Linked DNA regions of Homo sapiens: region 1 is linked to region 2. Evidence: fine-mapped expression QTL. A gene starts in region 2. The other region holds a variant in brackets. All regions are shown on one strand. Distances are from middle to middle.

Region 1 (5,388 bases), 370 kb after region 2:
TGGATGGATTTGGGGGTCAACAGGGATTCTTACGATATTTGATTTTTCAGTAGTTAGAGGAAATAAGAGCAAATTGCTTAATTGCTTCAAATATTCTGGAAGGCAAGCATTCCAAGCACATCTTACTCTTTTGGCTGTTGGAGTCATAGGTCTTCAATCCTCCTAACACAGGAAGAATCTTCACCGCTAAAAATCTGGCATAATTTTTTTACACTCACAAGAAAACCTGTCGTAGGTGAGTAAAATCATGTATCACCTCTAATAAATTTTATTTTTATAAAGTTTTGATAGCATTTCGTATGAAAAATATTTTCATACATGAAATTTTAAAATAGTTTATTGATGGCTTTTTCTGCTCAATGTGCTGCAAGAGGCAAAAGTTTCCCAATGTAGGTTTAAAATCCTTTGATAATGCTAGAATTGGACTATTAGTGTGCTTGTGTAAATCATTGTTGCCAATTACAATTTATCTATCAATTGTGATAGTTCTAATTTTAGCTAGTGTTAACCTTAAAAATAAATTCTTTATATTTGTTTAGTGCATTGCCAAGTCCACTTGCATTTTTTTCCTGTTTCTTAAATCATTTTTTTTCTCTCTACTGGTCACATCGTGCATGGACTTCTATAACATAGCTTCCTAACTGATTTTCCTGCATCACTCTTTGTCTTAAATTGTGCCTATTGACAGCTTGATTAAGCTTGGAAGTACATTAGGAGAATCCCCTTCCTGTGGAGTTTCCTGTAGCATTAGTCAGGAGAGGAACTTTAGTGGAAATACACTATTGGAAGCACACCAGATACAAAGATGAATAGATGCAGAGGTACCTGGTGGGTCCCAGTTTATCCTCACTGTCCTCCACATGGTGGTCCTCTCATCATCCAGAGTACAGGACCTGCTGACCACTGTGGCCCCAGGCCCACCACCAGATGCTTGATTCCAGACCCACAGAGGCAGTAGCTGCCAAAGGCAAAAGCTCTCCTGAGGTCTCCCTGAGCGCCTGCTCACAGCCCTGCTTCATAGATTGGCTGTGCTTGGCTTCTCAAGTCTCTCTGAAAGCATTGTCTTGCCAACCTGAGTCAGTGCTTCCTGACTTTTCCATCCTCCAACTCCCTCTCCCAGAACTTTCCTTTCCTTGCTCTTCCCACAATTCTGTAAACTCTAATTCCTATGGTAAATGCTTTATGGATTTACCATAATGCTCATAGTGACTCTGCTTCCACTACCAAAGCCCAGCTGATACACCCTTGAACTCATCCATTGCCTTTCCCAGAGCAAAACTTTTACAGTGAAAGTGATCATGAACTGACTTAATTCCCCTCTCCCCTTTCCTTGATCAATCCTTGATCCTCTTCATCTCTTTCAAAACTCTCACTTCCTAGGTTTCAGAGCTCCGTCTCCCTGGATTCTGCCCTCCTGGGCCACACACCCACATACTTTTGAGTTCAGGGCTTTTGCTCTGACTCACTTGCTAATATAGCAGGCTAGGATTTTATGTGGAGCAGATCTCAGTTCAAACTCTTGTGCTGCCCTTTCTAGCTGGGGACTTAGATAAGTTATTTGACATTTGTTAGGTATAACTTACTCACATGTAAGAGGGGGATAATGTCATAGTTATCTTATGAGGGTGGTAGGAGATGTAGATACAAAATTGAAAAGCATCTAGCAGTGCCAAATACCTGTGAGTGCCTCCACAGATGTTGACTTGCTTCCTCTTTTTCTTTATGCTGTGAACAATCCTCCATTGCCTTCCAAGGAGAAGAAGTGACCTCATGGTCCAGATGTTTTACTGCCTCTAGTATTGCAAATCCCAGTGGAGAAGGTTCCTGGTTGAACCATGAATTGAAACACCTAGCATTGAAGTAAGAACATCTTGGTTCAAGGGCAAGGGGCTTTATCTTTTAATGTGGGTGATTGTTCCTGTGAGTGATTATAGTGAAGCTGTACTTTGAAAAATTGCTGATGTTGATGCTGATTACAGATATGGAGAATGGACAAAATGAGAAAAGAAAAATGAAAAATTGAACTTTCCTGTAAAAGCAACACTAATTATAGACATTTATATCTATGGCTTATTATTTATAACTAATTAGTATGCAGCACAATGGCAGTGATGCAAGTCATTACATATATCACACCACCAACTTGTTTCACTCAATTGCAACAATAATTTCTCTCCATGGACACTTGACTATTGGTTTGTTGTTCAGGTTTGTTCATCTACTGATAACATAGAGTAATTAGAGGAATAGCAGTTTCCACAAAGAGAATACTGATGTATAGTGATAATTTTTTGCACTTCATCCCTTAAACAGTACTGTGGCAAAGTTGCTATTCTTATCTGCATTTTTCTGATAGGAAACTGAGGCCCAAAGAATGTAAGTAAATGCCAAAAGCCTTAAATATAGA[C/T]GTTGGACTCAAACACTTTTCTCTTCCAAGCTCTTACTTGGACCTATGCGGCAAAGCTGATCTGTTGAAAGACGTTTAGTGACACATAAATGTCTTTAATTAATGGAATGAAAATGACATGAGATGGATTTGTAAAATCAAGATTTGTAGGTTTAGGCTTGAGTTCTACATCCTAGGGCAAAGGATGTGACTGCTTATCTGCCCCTAGGGTCAGAATTCCTGACATTCTTGTTTTTTAATGCTTGTGTCTGCTTGCACTTTGTAATCTGTAGGCTTCCTGAAAGCTCCAAAAATCTAAAAACAATAAATCATTCAACATCTTTTAGCTTGTTTTTCTTTTTTAGAGACAGAGTCTCACTGTGTCACATAGGCTGGATTGCAGTGGTGCAGTCATAGCTCATTGCAGCCCTGACACCTTGGGCTCAAGGGATATTCCTACTTCCACCTCCCAGGTAGCCAGGACTATAGATGCACACCATCATGCCTGGTTAGTTTTTTTTTTTTAATTTTTTAATTTTTTTTTTTTTTGTAGAGACAGGGTCTTGCTATGTTGCCCAGGCTCATCTTGAACTCCTGAGCTCAAGAGATCCTCCTGCCTCAGCCTCCCAAAGTACTGAGATTAAGGGTGTGAGCCACTGTGCCCAGCCATTATTGCATTTTTGAGCTACCCAAATGGCCTAGCACTATCTTCAATATTTCAGAAGTACCATACTGTGTTCCAAACAAAACATAGCATTCCCTATGGACAGTGTGGTTTCTAACCGAAGTGGACAGTGGGTCCTCATGCCTGATGGCTCTAGAGAAGAGAAGGCTGCAATTGGACCCAAGTTCTTCAGTTAGGCCAATAAATACTCCCTGTTACTCTGATCTGATGATTTTGAGATTTATCTGCAAGGTGTAGGGGAGAAGGAAAGTCAATTTGCCATGCTTAAAGGAAAAGATAATGGGTTAAAGAAGACTTTGATGAAGCTTTGAAGTCTTAAGAAAGCTAGATTATATCATTCTCTCCAAAGGTGTTTCAGTCGCCCTTTTTACCTTGGGGTTTGGCGGTTATTTTATGCCCCCTAAAAACAATGTACCAATTATCCAGTGACTAGTGTTCCAATTAATTTATGGACATGAAGATTAACATGCAATCTGCTAATGCATTAATGAGTTTGTAATATTTAGAAATAGGAGGACCAAAACTGGTAGACCAATTCTGAGTTTTATCAACTTCAGTGGTTGAAATTAAAATGAAAATAGCAACATTTGTTTTTATTCTCCCTACAAAGAAACTAATTATTTTCCTCTGGGTAATGATAATTAACAAAATTCCTATTGTGTTCCTGATCAGTTCACAGCTGGCACTTCGATAATTACAAAGACTTGGTTTTATGAGGTGACATTAAACTCCTGCCTAACTTGGGAAGTACATTAATTGTATACTATTGCCTGAGCTTATTAATTCTAAATTATGCCTCAATGAACTTCTCAAATTGGGAGCAACATTTATATTAATAAACTAGTCAGTGAGAGGGAGGGAAGGAGGGTGCGAGAGAGAGAGAGAGAAAAAGAGAGATCATAAGAATCTACTACTGAGTGTAGATTTTGTCTGCTCCAGATGTTATAGCTGGGTTTAAAAAACTTTGATATGTTTGAATAAATTCCAAAGGAACGTCTCATCCATTCTTTTTTTTTTTTTTTTTTTTGTGACAGAGTCTCACTCTGTCACCCAGGCTGGAGTGCAGTGGCATGATCTTGGTTCACTGCAACCTCTGCCTCCTGGGTTCAAGCGAGTCTCCTGCCTCAGCCTCCCAAGTAGCTGGGATTACAGGTGCCCACCACACACACCTGGCTGTTATTTTGTATTTTTAGTAGAGGCGGGGTTTCACCATGTTGGCCAGTGGTCTTGAACTCCTGACCTCAATTGATCCGCCCACCTCTGTCTCCATCTCCCAAAGTGCTGGGATTACAAGCATGAGCCACTGCGCCCAGCCTCATCCATTCTTATAACACATTTTTAGCCATTCTTTTTTCATTTAAGCAGGAAAAGCGAAGTGCTAGGTAAGCCTGGGATTTGTGGTTGAAATGTGTTCAGAGTGCTACCCTCCCTCATTCCTTGGAACTTTCTGAAGGACCAGAACTGACCTGAGGACCTGTCGGGTGTGTATCACTGAGGGAGTTCCAGGGCTATGCAGGGAAGCCCTGAGTGGGATGCAGTGATTCCTCTCTATTGTGTCTATTTCCATGAGGGCTGCCATCCTTCATGTAACAGTACCTTTAGGAACAGGGACCATATATCTATATATTTCTATTTCTAAGTTTCAAACAGTGCTTGGCAGCTAACAGGTGGTCAACTAATGTTTGTCGGATGAATGAAGGGTGGTACCAAGGAAGAATGGTGCGTTTAGTCCTGGCTGCTAAAGGAGGTTTAATGATAATTGGCCAATGTGTGGTGATTAAGCCTCAACAGTTACATAGAAGAAACCATGTTTATACTCATGTTGCTTTAACAATGCCATTGAAGTCTGGCACCGTGTCTCATACCTGTAATCCTAGCACTTTAGGAGGCTGAGGCGGGTGGATCACTGAGGCCAGAAGTTTGAGACCAGCCTGGCAAACATGGCGAAACCCCATCTCTACTAAAAGTACAAAAATTAGCCAGGTGTGGGGGCACACACTTGTAATCCCAGCTACTCTGGAGGCTGAGGCATGAGAATTTCTTAAGCCCAGGAGGCAGAACTTGCAGTGAGCCAAGATTGCACCATTGCACTCCAGCCTGGTGACAGAGTGAGACTCTGTCTCAAAAAAAAAAAGCCAGTAAATGTTACTTCTATCTTAAATTTCCAGTATAGCAATTTAAAAGATGATCTTTAATTTTTATGGATACATAATAGTTGCACATATTTACTATTTATGGGGTACATGTGATATTTTGATACAAACATACACTGTGTAATGATCAAATCAGGGTAATTGCAATATCCAACACCTTAAAC
Region 2 (5,388 bases):
ACTGGGAAAATCATTTAAATAAAAGAATAGTATATTAAGTTGGAGGGTAGGGTATATTTGAAGTCTTAGAGGCATGTAAACAGGAACTTGCAAGAAATTCCAGCAGAAATTTTCCACTTTAAAAAATATAGATAAAGCTGGGCACAGTAGGGCATGTCTGTAGTCCCAGCTACTTGGGAGGCTATGGCAGGAGGATCACTTGAGGCCAGGAGTTCAAGGCTGTAATACGCCTAGATTGTACCTGTGAATAGCCACTGCACTCCAGCCTGGGCAACATAGCAAGATTCCATCTCTAAAAAAATATAAATTTGATATAGATGTATCTATATATCTGTCTCTAAAAAATTCTGTCACTTCCATGAGTTCACATTATTGCTGAGATTTATTTTCTTGCAAGATTTTCTAATAACATGATAGTCCTTGTTTTCAAGCTGTCAGGTAGTAAAACAGTAATTTAATTTGGCAATAACATATGACATTCTAAGAAGACGCATTAGAAGGTTTTTAAGAAGTGTACTGAAATATTTTTGGAATGTCCTTCAAACAGGCAAAGTTTAAACTGGAAAGAGCAAAAAGTTAAATATTATATATTTATAAAAAGTCAAACTATTTTTTCCTTACCTGGTTAAAAAGGTGTTACCAAGGTCGCAAAATAGCTTTGTATATTAAAAATTTTTTTTATTGGATTAATTCCTAGTTGTAGTTTAGCTACTTATTTTTGTTTTTCATTTATCTTTTTCACCTCTATGTAGCTTATGTTATTAAGTTATGTTATTAAGTTTTTAAATAAAACCTAGGAGGCTTCTTAATTCTTTATGAAAAATTCTGTGAGAATAACTAGCTAAATTTTAAAACTACAACCAAATAAGATTGACATAATAATATGCATATACATTGCTCTTCTCACATTAACAATAATAGATTTGTATCTTCTAAGATATCTCTGAGAATAAAATTTCCAGCCATATCATCAGCTAAATTAACTCAAATTTACTATCTGGATTTGGCTGTTTCACTTGTAGGTTAAAAGTTAAAAGGTTTGCTATTTCTTGGAATCAAAGGTTATTTAATGAAAGAAGATTAATTTCAATAAATGATGCATTTAAAGTTTTTTCCAACAAAGAGTGTAAGAGATTTATCACAGGTTCTAAATAACAAATTTAATTTCCCTAACATGTTAAGGAGAATTTTGGTTCCCGCAGAGGACTGAGTGGACTAATCATTTATAATAAGACTGACTTTAAACTTCCTTTTAACTTGACAGTAGTTAATTCTAACTTTATTAAATTAGAATCCCCATTAATTCACCCATTTTTCTTTCACCAATTTTGTTTTACAATTAAGGTTTATCTGCAGAGTTCTGTTTTGACCATTATGCTGAAAGTGCTGAGTTCTGCTGTTTGCCTTCCTTCAGCCTTTCTGGCTGAATGGCTTCCTGAATCTTCTCAGAGGTTTCCCTCTGAGCCCATGATGGGGTTCTAAAAGCACATTCTGTTCATGTACTGGGATAGTGGGATGTGAGGGCAGAGAAGTTCTTCCTGAGCATGAGTCCTTCATCCTCTACCCACTGTTTTATAAACCTGTCTCAAATTCCATGCACTTTTGGACCCAGTTACTTGAACTCTCAGGAGCAGGTACTTTGTCACCTCCAGAGGGAAGGCCAGCATCCTCCTAGCGGGTACTGCTGTGTGCTTGCCCCTGAGCCAGGAGCTTTGCATTTGCTCTCTCATTTGATCCCCTCAACAACCCTAGTAGTGAGGAAATATCTATTTCATACATGAGGAAATTGAGGCCCAGAGAAGGCACTGGCTGCTTAGCTGTGTGCTGTCACCCTGTTGAAACCAACGCCTCCTGCCTACACTGCCACTGCCTGTATAAACTGGTGCCACCCACGGTTATATGGCAGAAAGCAGTGCTTCGAGAAAATGGACCAGCAACCGCCATGTGTTGAACAGGCTATGGGCAGGAGGAAATAAAGCAGTTATAGCACCTGGGGGTGGAAGTCAAGGCAGTAACCAAAATAAAGTGGGAGCACGGAAAAAAGCTGGGGAAATAAAAAGGTTCAAATTTCACATTTCCTCATGAAGTCCAGATCAAGTTGGAGCTTGTTTAATAGCAGAAATTAGGCAGCCAGACCTGTCTGTAGGGCAAAGAAATTTTTGTTGAAAAGCCCAGCAAGTATTTACTCCGCTGTAACAGAGTCTTTTTCTAACTCCAGGATCTTTTCTTTGTGTGCTCTGTAGAATGAAGTGTGCTTGTTTTGGTGGGGATACATTTACACAGTTCTCCATGTTTTGTTTCATCTTTCCTCTCCGTGTTGTTGCTCTCTTTTTCCTTTGCTCTATCCAAAGATATCAGCCAAAGAAGCCAAGAAAAATGTTATCTTTACTTTAGAATTAGGGATTTCAGATATGGGTAGATGGCTCTGTTAGGCAGAAGTGTCAGAGCTGGTTATAGGAAAACCAGGCGGCACATACATGATCCCAGACACCGAAGTAACCTCTGTCTCACTCCTCCACTTCCAGCAAGGTATTGTGCTCTGAGGGGCTGATGAGAGAAGGTAGATTATGGGTCTGCCAAGGCTTTTTACTGGTCTCTGTTTATCTTTTTCTGAGTGCCAATTCAGCATGATCTAGACCAGGATCATTTGTTTGCAGGGATGGAAAACAAACTGAAACTGGCTCAAGTGAATGCTCACTGGAAGGCTTACTGGAAAACTTACTGGAAGGATGTGAGGACATGTTCGGGAATCTATTTGCAGAAAACATATTCAGGTATACTGGGAGCTCTCCCTCTCTCACATTGTCTCCCTCACTGAAACCAGGATTGCTGTCTATTTCCTTGGGGCTGTTGCTGTCATGCTGTCTTACTAACTGTAGTGTTGTGTTAGCTACACGACTGCTCAAGTTTATTTTTTTGAAAAATTGTGTTCCATTTAGCCAGGATGATGCAAGTTGTTTCAAGAAAGGCTATAAAATGCTTGCAATAAAAGTCATGTTCATTCACATTCATTAGGAAAAAATGAAATAAATCTATGCTGCATAACTTTTTTCATGCCAAGTGCGGGAGTGGAGGTTGTCAAATCAAGACTGGATCATCAAGTACATAATGATAGGGTGCCAAAATTCCAAGGAGGTTGGGAGTCACTGTTGTTGAGGGTGGTCAAAGAATTTGTTTCCCCACAAGGCATGTGGCTTTGGGCCAGCACACCTCATAATTCGTTCTCTTCTATTTCCCACATCCGTCTTATAATGTCTCAATTTAACCAGGGGAATATGGAGCGTGAACTCTTTCTATTTACCCTTTTAACATCCAGGTAGATATTTCTGAGATACATGGCAATGTATCAGGGTTGAGTTTGCTGCTCTGGTTCTTATCCTTTTTTTTTGAGACAGGTTCTTGCTCTGTTGCCCAGGCTGGAATGCAGTGGTGCAATCTCAGCTCACTGCAGACTCTGCCTCTGCCTCTTAAGTTTAAGTGATCCTCGTGCCTCAGCCTCCTGAGTAGCTGAGATTACCGGCACCTGCCATTGTGCCCAGCTAATTTTTGTATTTTTAATAATGGTGAGGTTTCACCATGTTGCCCAGGCTGGTCTCGAACTCCTGGCCTCAAGTGATCCACTTGCTTTGGCCTCCCAAAGTGCCGGGATTACAGGTATGAGCCACCATGCCTAGCCTCTGGTTCTTATCCTTTTGAAAGTCTTAAAGTCTCCTCTTCATTCATGTATCAAATATTTGATGAAATATTTGACCAGATGTCAGAGTCTAGAACATCAGACCGAGATAGTAAACCAGTGGGTCGTAAATAGCTACATGAAGGGCATAGAATCTAAACAGATCCAGAGTGAGAGATTAAGGTCAAGGAACTGGAAGGCATATCTGGATTTATTTATTTTTTTTAAAAAAATACAGTATTTGTTTGGATGGAGAATGGAAATAGAACTTGCAGTTTTGGTTCTCTGCAATGCAGGTTGGCCACTGCTATTGCTGTAACTCTGTCCTATTGTCCTACCCATACTACTGTTGTAACTTCCATAAGGTGGGACCTGATGAATCACGCACACTTCCAGAGTGTTTGGTCAGGGTGACCCTGGGTGCAGCAAGGATGGCCAATGCTGTTGGCATCAAAAGGCCAAGAGATGACTTTGGTCAGATTAGATAAAGACCATTTAGGGCCATGGAGATATGGAAGCAATTTTCTTCTTTCCTAGAAGATGATGCAATAGATGACAATAAGCATTTGGGTGAATCTCTCCAGCCAGGTTTGAAGGCAGTTTGTGTCACGTAGTGGGTGGGTGGATGGGGAAAGTTAGTTCTAATTACTATTCCAGGGCCCTACATCCAGAACCTTTCCATTTTAAGACAAGAGGGGGACTAACATTCCCAGCTCATTCGCAAATGACTCAAGAGAATGGGACAGAGGAAAGGGAGATACCATTTTTAATTCCCCCTGGAGGAGTCCTAATGTCCCATTAGTGTTTCAACTGTTTGGTCTAATTCAGGTATGAAGTACAGTGGTTTGTTTGTTTGTTTGTTTGTTTTGTTTTTTGTTTTTCATAAAATTGGTTGATTGATTAATAAATTGCTTGCTGGGCATTGGGGAACTATACATGAAAATTATATGACTTTAACCCTGAAGGAGCTCAGAATCTAATGCGGAAGATGGATATTTATGATATATAACAAGGGCAACAATAAATCTAGTACAAGATATGAGGAATCTTCCAGGCTTTGTATTGGACAAAATGTCTCTGGGATGTCCTTTACCTGGAGGCATATATGGGCCCAATGCCAGCTTCAGCTATTCTAAAAGAGACCTGAGTCTAAAGATCACACATTATCTCATATCAGGAGCCATGCTCACTGACTGAAATTTCCCAGTGGCCACCAAGCTATCATTATGGTCCCTATAGTCCCACTAATTATTATCCATCCCACTTTGCTACTTCTGGATCGGACACTTGACAGATAATGTCAGGGACAGTATAGCGTGTGTTTTGCCCAAATGATCTTTAAGACAGCCTCGTTCCCAGTCTGGCGGTTGTGTGGGAATCAGCATCTTCACTTCCTGATTTCTATTACACTCCTTCCTACAGCCCTGTCCACCACAGCCAGCTGGCTGAAGAGCTCAAAAGGCAAGAAATCAGCAAGAGAGAGAGATGAAGCATGAGAAATGAGCAAAAAACACCCAGCACATCATAATCTTGGACAGTTTAGCAGTACATGAAAATAGATGGTCCTCGCCCCAAGGGACTGCAGTAACCCTGAATAAACAGGATGTCTCTCACTTTTAGCAGTTCTTTCTGTGCTAGTATTGGGGAAATATATTTTTGGCTGCATGCAAAATGGTAAAAGACATCTATTAAGAAAATGAAAACAATGCTTCTGT

Evidence for each region. PIP is the estimated chance that this variant, and not a neighbour inherited with it, causes the effect. A credible set is the group of variants that fine-mapping cannot tell apart.
Region 1: its variant is the best candidate, but not a certain one, in a credible set for the expression of LINC01564 in esophagus mucosa (GTEx, PIP 0.86).

Annotation. Positions count from the first base shown.
Region 1 is chr6:54,000,860-54,006,247 of GRCh38, forward strand. MLIP-IT1 (MLIP intronic transcript 1) reads left to right here. Exons shown (of 4, transcript NR_046832.1): 2 at 51-235; 3 at 1,755-1,860. Among named protein-coding and RNA genes, the nearest start is that of MLIP-IT1, 4.7 kb to the left of the region's middle. The variant C/T (reference allele first, on the strand shown) is at 2,408.
Region 2 is chr6:53,625,918-53,631,305 of GRCh38, forward strand. It overlaps LINC01564 (long intergenic non-protein coding RNA 1564), which reads left to right and starts at 2,463. Exons shown (of 3, transcript NR_125841.1): 1 at 2,463-2,529; 2 at 2,658-2,774; 3 at 5,096-5,388.